3 linked regions of the Homo sapiens genome follow. The protein of the gene in region 1 purifies or fractionates together with the protein of each later gene. This does not show direct contact. Each region holds a gene or a part of one and is shown on either strand. Other genes may lie near its edges.

What was found.
Region 2: the proteins of USP28 (region 1) and GUCY1B1 purify together in Homo sapiens (affinity purification with mass spectrometry; one large-scale study listed by BioGRID and IntAct). This does not show direct contact.
Region 3: the proteins of USP28 (region 1) and HAUS5 purify together in Homo sapiens (affinity purification with mass spectrometry; one large-scale study listed by BioGRID and IntAct). This does not show direct contact.

What each region holds. Positions count from the first base shown.
Region 1 is NC_000011.10:113,802,506-113,806,156, reverse strand, and holds part of USP28 (ubiquitin carboxyl-terminal hydrolase 28), read left to right. Parts: intron 1-1,110; coding exon 1,111-1,289; intron 1,290-1,405; coding exon 1,406-1,484; intron 1,485-2,279; coding exon 2,280-2,359; intron 2,360-2,875; coding exon 2,876-2,999; intron 3,000-3,651. UniProt on the Homo sapiens protein: Deubiquitinase involved in DNA damage response checkpoint and MYC proto-oncogene stability. Involved in DNA damage induced apoptosis by specifically deubiquitinating proteins of the DNA damage pathway such as CLSPN.
Region 2 is NC_000004.12:155,789,966-155,793,616, forward strand, and holds part of GUCY1B1 (guanylate cyclase soluble subunit beta-1), read left to right. Parts: intron 1-3,651. UniProt on the Homo sapiens protein: Mediates responses to nitric oxide (NO) by catalyzing the biosynthesis of the signaling molecule cGMP.
Region 3 is NC_000019.10:35,615,715-35,619,365, reverse strand, and holds part of HAUS5 (HAUS augmin-like complex subunit 5), read right to left. Parts: intron 2,243-3,651; coding exon 2,173-2,242; intron 2,080-2,172; coding exon 1,997-2,079; intron 1,512-1,996; coding exon 1,454-1,511; intron 1,296-1,453; coding exon 1,171-1,295; intron 965-1,170; coding exon 901-964; intron 798-900; coding exon 667-797; intron 480-666; coding exon 317-479; intron 1-316.

The sequences.
Region 1 (3,651 bases):
AACCAGCCGGGTCAACATAGTGAGACCCCCATCTCTACTAAGGAATTTTTTTTTTTTTTAATTAGCTGGGCATGGTAGCACATACCTGTAGTCCCAGCTAATTTGGAGGCTGAGGCAGGAGGATCACTTGAGCCCAGGTGTTCAAGGTTGCAGTGAACCATGATTGTGCCACTGCATTCCAGTCTGGGTGACAGAGTGAGACCCTGTCTCCAAAAAATAAAAAAAAAGTCTTCTGTGAAGTGAAATATGAGACTTCCTTTCCTGTCCAACTGATGAACAAGCTGTTCACTTCTCTTCTCTTGACCCTAACCCAGCCTTGGCTAGCAGTAACATTCTCTGTGACACCTAGCCTAGAGGGCTTTTCATTGTTGTTGTTAGGAGTTGTCTGTTAGTAACACTGAGTTAGATTGTGCCTTTGTAATTTTGAGGCCATAACAAAGTAGGCTGTGTTTTTAAAAATACTTGAGTAAAATTGCATTTGTATAGATTCTTTAAGTTTAAGTCATTGACACACAAGGATCTGCCTTTTATAACAATTAAAACTAAATATTTGTTTTTCTGAGAACTTTATGAGAAAACTGAATTTCTTAAGAGTACAGTAGGCTGGGCGCAGTGGCTCATGCCTGTAATCCCAGCACTTTGGGAGGCCAAAGTGGGTGGATTGCTTGAGCTCAGGAGTTTGAGACCAGCCTGGGCAACATGGCGAAACCCAATCTCTATCAAAAATACAAAAATTAACTGGGCATGGTGGTATATGCCTGTAGTCCCAGCTACTTGGGAGGCTGAGGTGGGAGGATCACCTGAGCCCAGGAGTTCAGGGCTGCAGTGAGCTGTGATCATGTCACTGAACTCCAGCCTGGGTGACAAAGTGATACTCTGTCTCAAAAAAAAAAAAAAGTACAGTATGTTTTTGGTGCCAGAATGCTAAAAGAGTTTCATCCCTTATGAAATGCAAGAAACTTAAAAATTCCATAGTTGTTTTTGTAATTCGATATGAATTTTTTAGAAGTCTTTTTAGAGTCAAGAGACTGCCTAGCTCCTAGGCATCAATTTCTGTGTGCAGAAGCCCACAGCACACTATTTTCTAACCATTGATTCTGCCCTTAATAGGCATTCCATGAAGAATACTCCAGGCTCTATCAGCTTGCCAAAGAGACCCCCACCTCTCACAGTGATCCTCGACTTCAGCATGTCCTTGTCTACTTTTTCCAAAATGAAGCACCCAAAAGGGTAGTAGAACGAACCCTTCTGGAACAGTTTGCAGATAAAAATCTTAGCTATGATGAAAGGTGAGAAGAGAATATTCAGGTGAATCCCTTGGTCTGGGTTGGGCTAGATGGACTCCTCTGTTGGGGAAGTTTTGCCCTGTGCCTTTTCATTGCTTTCTGAACTTTGTCCCACACAGATCAATCAGCATTATGAAGGTGGCTCAAGCGAAACTGAAGGAAATTGGTCCAGATGACATGAATATGGAAGAGTACAAGGTAAAGTGTTTTCTTTAAGTCTATAGAGCAAAAACATTAATTCCTGAGGTAAATGGTACCTGAGGCAAAATAAACAATTTTGTGCTATTACAAACTGACTTGTTCTTCCACTTTCCCCTCAAAATCCTGGTAAAGAATGGATAAATGATATTTTCTTGCCCTCAGAATAGCAGGTCTCTTTATTTTCATTCTTCATTTAGAGTGAGTCAACATTTCACTTCCCTTAAATACCTATTTTAGCCTTGTCCTAGGCAGTAAAATTCTTGAAATCATGCTTTTGGTTTGTTTTAAATGATAAAGTTTTAAAAATACGCATTAAAATACATAGCTACACATGTTTTCAATTGCATCCCATGTAAAACAATGTTATGTACCACCCAAGGTGTATTCACCACACTTACTGAACTTGAACTTGCTCTGTATGACTAGAAATGTCCGTGTCCTTCCATATTTTCAATATCTGGATGGTTTTACCAGTCCTAAAGAGGTCATTCACTTAAGCTAGAGCTGAATATCTTTTACATAGCTGTTAGAAATTAGGATAAAATCCGAAGCTCGTAGGAAATAAGTACTTCTGTTACTCAAGTGAAAGGAACAGAACATTGAAAATTAAGGTCAGTGGTAGACTTTTATTTTAAATGTTGAGTAGGTTTTTATCTGAAAGCTTTTGTTTGTTATTTTTGTGGCTAGCCAGATGTGCTCAGTAAATATTTGTAATGAATTTAAAACTTAGATGGGAAGGACACTAACAATCTATTATGATCATGATTATTAATAATCGTCATTCTTTTTCAGAAGTGGCATGAAGATTATAGTTTGTTCCGAAAAGTGTCTGTGTATCTCCTAACAGGCCTAGAACTCTATCAAAAAGGAAAGTATGTTGGCCTTTTATTTTACCAAGATTATTAGTCAGGATGCTGTTCTCTGTAGATGCCTACCTGGGAATACTAAGAGTCACAGCCATGCATAACCTCCCTTGTCACATACACTAGTGTGCCTCTTCTCTTGCAGTGCTTTGGTTTTGCTCTAAACATCACACATGGTTTTTCATCCTTCAAATGATTAGATGTATTAGCTGCGAGATAATATTGTGCCAGGCTGTCTTTGTGATCAATGAAGATGAACTCAGAAAATGAATTTTTGAGTTGACATAGACCCTAGTGAGCATTTCTTGTTTTAGAGATGGGAAAACCTGAGGCCTAGGGAAGTTTCATATTTGCTTTGGATGGCTAGGCCAATTTGTAGAAGAGATGAGACTGGCTACGGTCTTTGGTCCTTCACTTTTTCAGAATTGCAGCCAAGTAGGTTCTTGAAATGGGGAAAAGTGAGGTCTAAGCCCTAGATTTTAGTAAAAGAGCACTCAGCTGTTGTTTATCTCCCATTTTTCTAAGGTACCAAGAGGCACTTTCCTACCTGGTATATGCCTACCAGAGCAATGCTGCCCTGCTGATGAAGGGGCCCCGCCGGGGGGTCAAAGAATCCGTGATTGCTTTATACCGAAGAAAATGCCTTCTGGTTTGTACTGTTTGTAAAGCCTTAAGGTTTTTTTGTTGTTTACCTCTGCTCCTTGAAGCCAGGAAAATATATGGCTTTCAAAACAGACTATCTCCAACAGGTTGTAGATTTCCCCCCAAAATTCTCATGAACAGTTTTACATTGGAACAGGTTTTTTTTCAGTTACTTTTAGTGAATGTCATTCTTCTTCAATGATAACTGATAGAAGTTAAGATGAGAATCAGTCATCCCTCTGTGTGCCCTTCATGTATGCCTGCATTATAGATTTTATCACATTGCTTTCCTACTAGGTTGTAAATTCCTTGAGCTCAGATCCTTTTCTCACTCAGCCATTTCCTCTGTGCCTGTCATGTAGGAACCATGTAATAAATGTGTGTGGAAGGAATGCAGCATTTTTTCCATGTTCACATTTAAGCTGGTAGACTTAAAGTTTTAGTGACTTCTGACACTCCATTTTTTTAAAATAAAGGTAGGAACTGTAAGAATTGGTCCTGCTGTTCTGATAACATCATTGTCACATACTAGTGAAGACTAACTCTCTCCTGGCCTGATTTGCACTGTATAACTACATGGAAAGGCAGACCTACATCCCCTTGCCTCCCCAGGGGTTTATGTGATGTGTGTCCTTTGGAGAACTGTAAAGGGGTGGCCT
Region 2 (3,651 bases), on another chromosome or scaffold:
AATGACACTCTCTAAATTTACCTGCAGTTATCACTGTTAGTGCTCTTCCCTGGAAGTATATATAAGCCAAAACAGTGGAAAGACCAGCAATCTTCTATATTTGGCCTGGGAGTGCATTATACAGGATATTTTTTTCCTTCTGGCAGCAGATTTTTCTTTCTAATTATATAGTGTTCAAGGCTACAAGAAATTTACTTTGCATTCCCTGTGAACACACACCAGCTGGGAAGCAGAAGGATATGTGACGACTGAGCTGTGGGTTTCAGCATGCAAAATATCCATAATATGGATAGTCAAATTCTAAGGCAATATAAAATTAAGTATTATTTTATAGATCATTTTCTCTTTGTCGATTTTTGTCTGCCCCGAAATATAGTTGGAATGTCTAATTTTGTGAATGAAAGTGTTTGTTTTTGTTTTTGTTTTTAATCAAGTTACTTGGTGAAAGAAGCCAGGTCTGGTACTTTAAAAATTGTGCTGTTATTGATAATACACACTCTTAGTTTTGAGTGATGATTTCAAGGTACTGATAGGGCAACCGTACAACAAAGAGAACCACTGTTTCTCTTTACCTCTGGCCCTTACGGTTTCTCCCAGTCAGGCTGCTTTTTATGTGTTCAGCATGTTCATACCCAAGAGTCAATTCTCAGTAGCTTTAAACTTGAGGCCAAAGTGGGGAGATAGATACCTTTTTCCAACCTTTCTTTGTTTATAGAAAACCTATTAGACAGTTCTTTCTTATAGATCATAGATATATTGTAACACACTTGGGAGGTCTAAAACCCTTAAGTGGAGTATTATCCAAAATTAAAATAGTAACATTTAAATAAATTAGAAAGATATTCCACATATTTAATCTAGTAAAGTTATGTTAGAGTTCATGGTTTTCTTTCTTTCAGAAGTTGGTGTTAGTTCTTACGTGGCACCTTTTGGTGATTTCCAGGTGCATCGTTAGTTTTCTACAACCATTAGTAATGGCGGAAACCACGATTACTGTTGCACCAACCTAATAGAAAGTAGGACTGTGTATAACATGGCATTATCAAATGCAGACATTTAAAAATTAAAGCCTTGGGTAAAGTATCACAATTCATCCATGATTGGGAATCTCACTGGTATTCAATCAAAATAGTATATACCTCACATTTCCAATCTTTTTTTTTTTTTGAGACAGAGTCTCACTCTGTCTCCCAGGCTGGAGTGCAGTGGCGCGATCTCCGCTCACTGCAAGCTCCACCTCCCGGGTTCACGCCATTCTCCTGCCTCAGCCTCCCAAGTAGCTGGGACTACAGGCCCCCACCACCACGCCCGGCTAATTTTTTTGTATTTTTAGTAGAGACGGGGTTTCACCGTGTTAGCCAGGATGGTCTCTCTCTCCTGACCTCATGATCCGCCCGGCTCGGCCTTCCAAAGTGCTGGGATTACAGGCGTGAGCCACCGCGCCCGGCCAGTCTTTTGTTCTTGACATTAAACTAACAGTATCGCCTGGGCGCAGTGGCTCACGCCTGTAATCCTAGCACTTTGGGAGGCCAAGGCGGGGGGATCACGAGGTCAGGAGATTGAGACCATCCTGGCTAACACGGTGAAACCCCGTCTCTACTAAAAATACTAAAAAAATAGCCAGGCGTGGTGGCGGGCGCCTATAATCCCAGCTACTCGGGAGGCTGAGGCAGAAGAATCGCTTGAACCCGGGAGGCACAGGTTGCAGTGAGCCGAAATTTCGCCACTGCACTCCAGTCTGGTTGACAGGGTGAGACTCCATTATCAAAAAAATAGAGAAAAAAAAAAAAATAAAGCAAAACAAAACGAAAAACAAAAAAAAACACAGCATCTATACTGAGTGAACGTATATGCATATTGTATGCACTGTTGGTTTTATTTTTATTTAACCAGACTGAGAAAGAGGTAGGTTCGTAGAAACTTCAGAAAGAAACACAAATTAGGACACACTTGGAAACTACTATTACTGTGGTATTAGAATCTTTGGCATGGGAGATTGATGGCTTTAGCAAACTGTATGAAATTCAAGTATTTACTTAATTATATGGTTCACTTTATAAAATATTTAAATTCTCTTCTGACCATTTATTCAAGTGCTTCAATATGAACTTCTGAAATATTTGCATTTTATAGGTATATTTTATGTGTTTAATTTTTTCAAAAGCACTGTTTTGACTTCTCGAGGGATTCTCACATTAAGTTTATCAGGTCCAGAGATACCAGACAATTTGAACCACATGGTTAATACTAGATCATGTCATAAAGTGATATACCAATGAGAAGTTAAAAATATGATTAGAAAAGCTATTTGTTTTGCCAGTTTGATCAAAGCAAAAAAATTAGAATTGAATAATTAATTCATAAGTTTAGGATACATATAATTCAATTTCTCTAGTTAAATAGAAACAGAGTAGAACATCAAAAGTAGGCCTGTCATTTAAGGTTGACTCTCTTGCCTTGTCTATGAGTTAGGGAAATCAACCTTAATGTGGTAAAATTTTCAAATTATAAATAAGGATACTAATATTTAACCAGTATAGTAAGTTATTCTGACAGTGAGGTAGTAACATCCCAGTTTTGCTACAAAATATATCTAAAAGAATATATACAATAGCATCTATAGTTATTGTGATTTGTTTTTAAAAATTGCAGAGAATGCGACAGGGTACTCCTGAAAAAAAAAAAAGAAAAGAAAAATGAACAACATTTTGTTTTTATTTAGCTGTAACTGAAGAAATGTTGTCCCAAACTTTTTCTGTTTTGGGTCTGGTTGCCGTTGAGATCGAGTTTTCCCTTTGTAAGAGGGCTCATTGCTTGCAATTTCTTAACCCAAAAAGAAGAGGAAAATCTATACTTTAATAATGTATTTGCCTGTGAATAATACTTTAGAAAAGTAGGATTTTTTTACATTATAGATATTAGCTCACAATTACGATTACTTCTTTAGAATGAATTCCTAGATTTGCAATTAAATCAAAGAATCCACAAAATTTTAAGGAATTTTTATGCCTATTGTCAATTTATCCTTCAGAAAGATTAATCAAAATACCCCCTCATCAGTGGTATTTGAGATGCCTCTTTTTCAGTACCTTACCCAATTTAATATTGTAACTTTTTTTTCTTTTTTTGAGACAGAGTCTCGTTCTGTCGCCCAGGCTGGAATGCAATGGCATGATCTCGTCTCACTACAACCTCTGCCTCCCCAGGTTCAAGCAATTCTACTGCCTCAGCTTCCCGAGTAGCTGGGATTATAGGCACCCACCACTGCGCCTGGCTAATTTTTGTATTTTTAGTAGAGATGGGGTTTTGCCATGTTGGCCAGGCTGGTTTCAAACTCCTGACCTCAGGTGACCTGTCCGCCCCACCCTCCCAAAGTGCTAGGATTACAGGCGTGAGCCACTGCACCTGGCCTGGTATTGTAACTTTATGTATTTGATAGTTGATGGTTAAAAATGACATTGCATTTATTTTTGAATATGAATCTCTATCATTTTATTTCCCATTGTTTTAAAATAGTATTGTAATCTTATTTGATAGTGCTAGCTTGCTTTTAGCTGGCTTTCAGGTTGTTCACTATACAAGTGTGCTTGGCTAAGAAGGCAGAGCCCACAAGTGCTTTTTTTTTCTAATTCTACCAAAGAGACCATATAG
Region 3 (3,651 bases), on another chromosome or scaffold:
CTCTGCTTAGGTCCTGCTTCTGCCTGGGAGTCTCACCTGGGCTCTTGCCTAGGAGGCCCAGTTCTTAATTTTTAAGTGACAGCATTCTTTTTTTTTAAGTGATAGCATCTTGCTCTGTCACCCAGGCTGGAGTGCAGTGGTGTGATCATACCTCACTTCAGCCTTGAACTCCTGGGCTCAGATCCTCCCACCTCAGCCTCCCAAAGTGCTGGAACCACAGGCATGTGCTACCACACAGGGCTCAGGCCCAGTTCTTAGCCATAGTTTTCAAGCCTCCCCTCTGGCCCTCCACAAGGCCCTGGGCCTAGCCTCTCACCACCAGCTGGCGCCAGTGCAGGATCCGCTGCTGTTTGGCCTGTAGCTCCCTCAGCAGGAGCTGCCGATGCCCAGCTGCATCCTGCAGCTCCTGGCTCTGATCGTGCAGGGCCTTGAGCTCCGTCCACAGGCAACAGCGCCGAAGCCCCAGTATCAGCACCTGCCTGCAGGGCAAGTGGAGGAGAGCAAAGGAGAGAAGGGTGACTGAGCCACACAAGGGACCATAAACCAGGGAGAGACACTGCAGGGAGAGGAGGCAGAGATAGGAGCCACAGAGGCTGAAAAAGTCCAATGGGCTGAGACACTCAGAAGCGAGATGGCCTAGAGACCTCTTCTCGGAGAGCCCCCCACCTCTCACTGGATCCCAGGACGCGTCTCTCCACCTCCTCCACCAGGCCCTGGAGGCGCTGGGTCAAGACTTGCCGCTCCTTCAGGAGGGTGCTCCGCTGGGAGACCAGCACACCCACAGTCCGCCAGCCCTCCTGCAAGCGGGGTACAGAATCAGGGTACACCCAGGGCATGATCCATGGGTGAGGGGATTAAGGAAGTCTTGGAATGTGGTGGGGAGGCGAGCCCTGGGGTCACCTGGATGAGATGAACCATGGACGGCAGGGTCTGGCTGGAGTCTGACTGGTCCGGGGCCTGGGGTCTGGGGTGGGGGAAGAGCTGCTGAGGGAGCCGTGCTGCGGCCTTGCCTTGGTACTCGAGGGTGGACAGTATCAGTCCTGCCACCCCACCAGGCAGTGGGTTTCAGTTCTACCCCATCAGCAGGTGGCTGGGCCAGGGGTCCTGAGGCTGTCCCAGCTCACCCACTCACATGGCCTTCCCCAACTGTGAGAATACCCTGCCCCACACCTGGATATCTCTGTGTCGCCAAGCCCATCCCCACTGCACAGGGACCGAATCTCTGCCTCCCGCTCTGCAGCCAGGTGCTCCAAGGCAGCCAGGACGTGGCCTGGGGGGTGGTTTGTCAGCAGCGTCTAGGGGGAGGGAGGGTGAAGTCAGGGCAGGATCGGGGCAGGGCTGTGAGCTGAGACCCCATGGGAATAGGGCTGTCATCAAGAGTTAGGTCCTGGCACCCTAAGTTTTGATCAAGGAGCGGGAGGGTGTGGCTTTCCTGAGAGCCCTGCCCTCTCACCTCCACTGAGCTCAGCCACTGCTGGTACGAAGTGCCAAAGTGGTCATCATGAGGGGTTCTGTGGGGTTGGGTAAGCGGACAGAGAACGTTACAAGACACGTCAATTATCCTCTAGTTATCACCACCACCCTATAAGGTAGGGGCTGTCATCTTCCCTATGCCTGTTAGACTTGAGTTCCCCAATTATACCAACCTGCTGGCTTTGGGGCCTTTACATGGGTTGTTCATCTGGGACACTCTCTGGACCCTTCACCCCAGCTAAGCCTCCTCACCAGAGAACCTCTCCCCTCCCTGCCTTCTTAGCTGGGAAAGGCACTGCCTCTGGGTGCCCAGAGCCTCTCAGGCCTCCTCACTCCCGCAACAGCCCTGACCACCTGGCTGTCACTGTTTGTGATGAGAGACTGTCTCCTTCTATTCCCAGCCTGGAAGTCCCCTTCTACAGAACGTAGCCCAGAAGCTCAGTGTCTGAGGAATTAATAAATAAGAGACCCCCACTTAAAACCCAGGGTCTTTACAGGGTCTCTGGGGGCTAGGGACACTCACGGGAGGCTGCCCCTCTTGGCCTGGGGAAGCAGGAGGTTCTGCAGGAACTGGGCCCGGAGGGTGCAGGCTGTTCGGACATCACGCTAGGGAGAAGAGGAGGAAGGGACCTGAGGGGGACCCTAGCATCTGCCTGACTCCAGGCTCCCTGCCCCTTCTCCCATGACCAGGACTCTTACCAGGACCACGGGCTCCAGGCCCAGAGCTGCCGACGTGAGGGATCCAAAGGTCACATCTACTTTGGCTTTCCTGGAGGGAGAAGTGCAGCTGGGGCTGGGGTCCCTGGGAGAACAGATGTCTGTGCCCCATCTCCTCTCACTGCCAGCAAGGCCGGTCAGAGGAATCACTAAGCCTAGATCTCGGGAGCCATCTCCAGATTAGGCCACTGTCACCTCCCAGCTGGAATATTGCATTAGCCTCCCCACTGCTTTTGCTCCACGAGACTGTTTGCCACCCAGAAGTCAGTGATTCTGTTAAAACTGTAGGAAGATCATGTCCCTGCTCAGATCTGTCCAAAATAATGTGATGTTTCCCCAGCGCATTCAGAATAACAATGGGCCCAGCGTGGTGGCTCATGCCTGTACCCCAGCGCTTTGGGAGGCTGAGGTAGGTGGATCACTTGAGGTCAGGAGTTCAAGGCCAGCCTGGACAACATGGTGAAACCCCGTCTCTACTAAAAATACAAAAATTAGTCGAGCACAGTGGCATGCGCCTATAATCCCAGCTACTGGGGAGGCTGAGGCAGGAGAATCGCTTGAACCCCAGAGGCAGAGGTTGCAGTGAGCCAAGATCATGCCACTGCACTCCAGCCTGGGCAACAGAGCCAGACTCTGTCTCAAAAAAACAAAACAAAACAAAACAAAAAAACCAAACCCAGAATAACAATGGTTAACAGGCACTTCTCTAAGCACTTCACATGATTTATTCCACCTAACGATCATGCCTACCCTATAAGCTTGGTATTAATATTATCCCCATTCCACAGATCTTAGAATCTGAGGCACATAGAAAGAAGTTAAATACCTTGCCCAAGGTCACCCAATTTTTTTTTTTTTAAACAGAGTTTTGCTCTTGTCACCCAGGCTGGAGTGCAGTGGTGCAATCCAGGCTCACTGCAACCTCCTTTTCCTGGGTTCAAGTGATTCTCCTGCCTCAGCTTCCTGAGTAGCTGGGACTACAGGCACGTGCCACCACACTCGACTAATTTTTGTATTTTTTAGTAGGGACGGGGTTTCACTATGTTGGCCAGGCTGGTTTCGAACTCCTGACCTCAAGTAATCCGCCTGCCTCGGCCTCCCAAAGTGCTGGGATTACAGGTGTGAGCCACCATGCCCAGCCTTAGGTCACCCAATTTTAAGTGGCCAAGCCAGGGCATGAACCAGTGTCAGGGTAAAATCGCAACACATCATCCACAGTTCTCTGTCCACTCCTTCGACCTCACCTCCTCAGGTTCTCGGTCTTGCCTGAGAAACTTGAGCTGACATTGGCCTCCGGGCTGCTCTTCCTGCATGCTGAGCACACCACCTCTGCTCTTGCTATTCCTTCTCCACAGAAATTCCTCTTCCAACTCAATGTCCCCTCCTCAGAGGCCTTCGCTGACCACCCTCGCTAGGGCAGCATCTCCCTCTCCCTTCTATGATAGGCTTTTCTTCACAGCA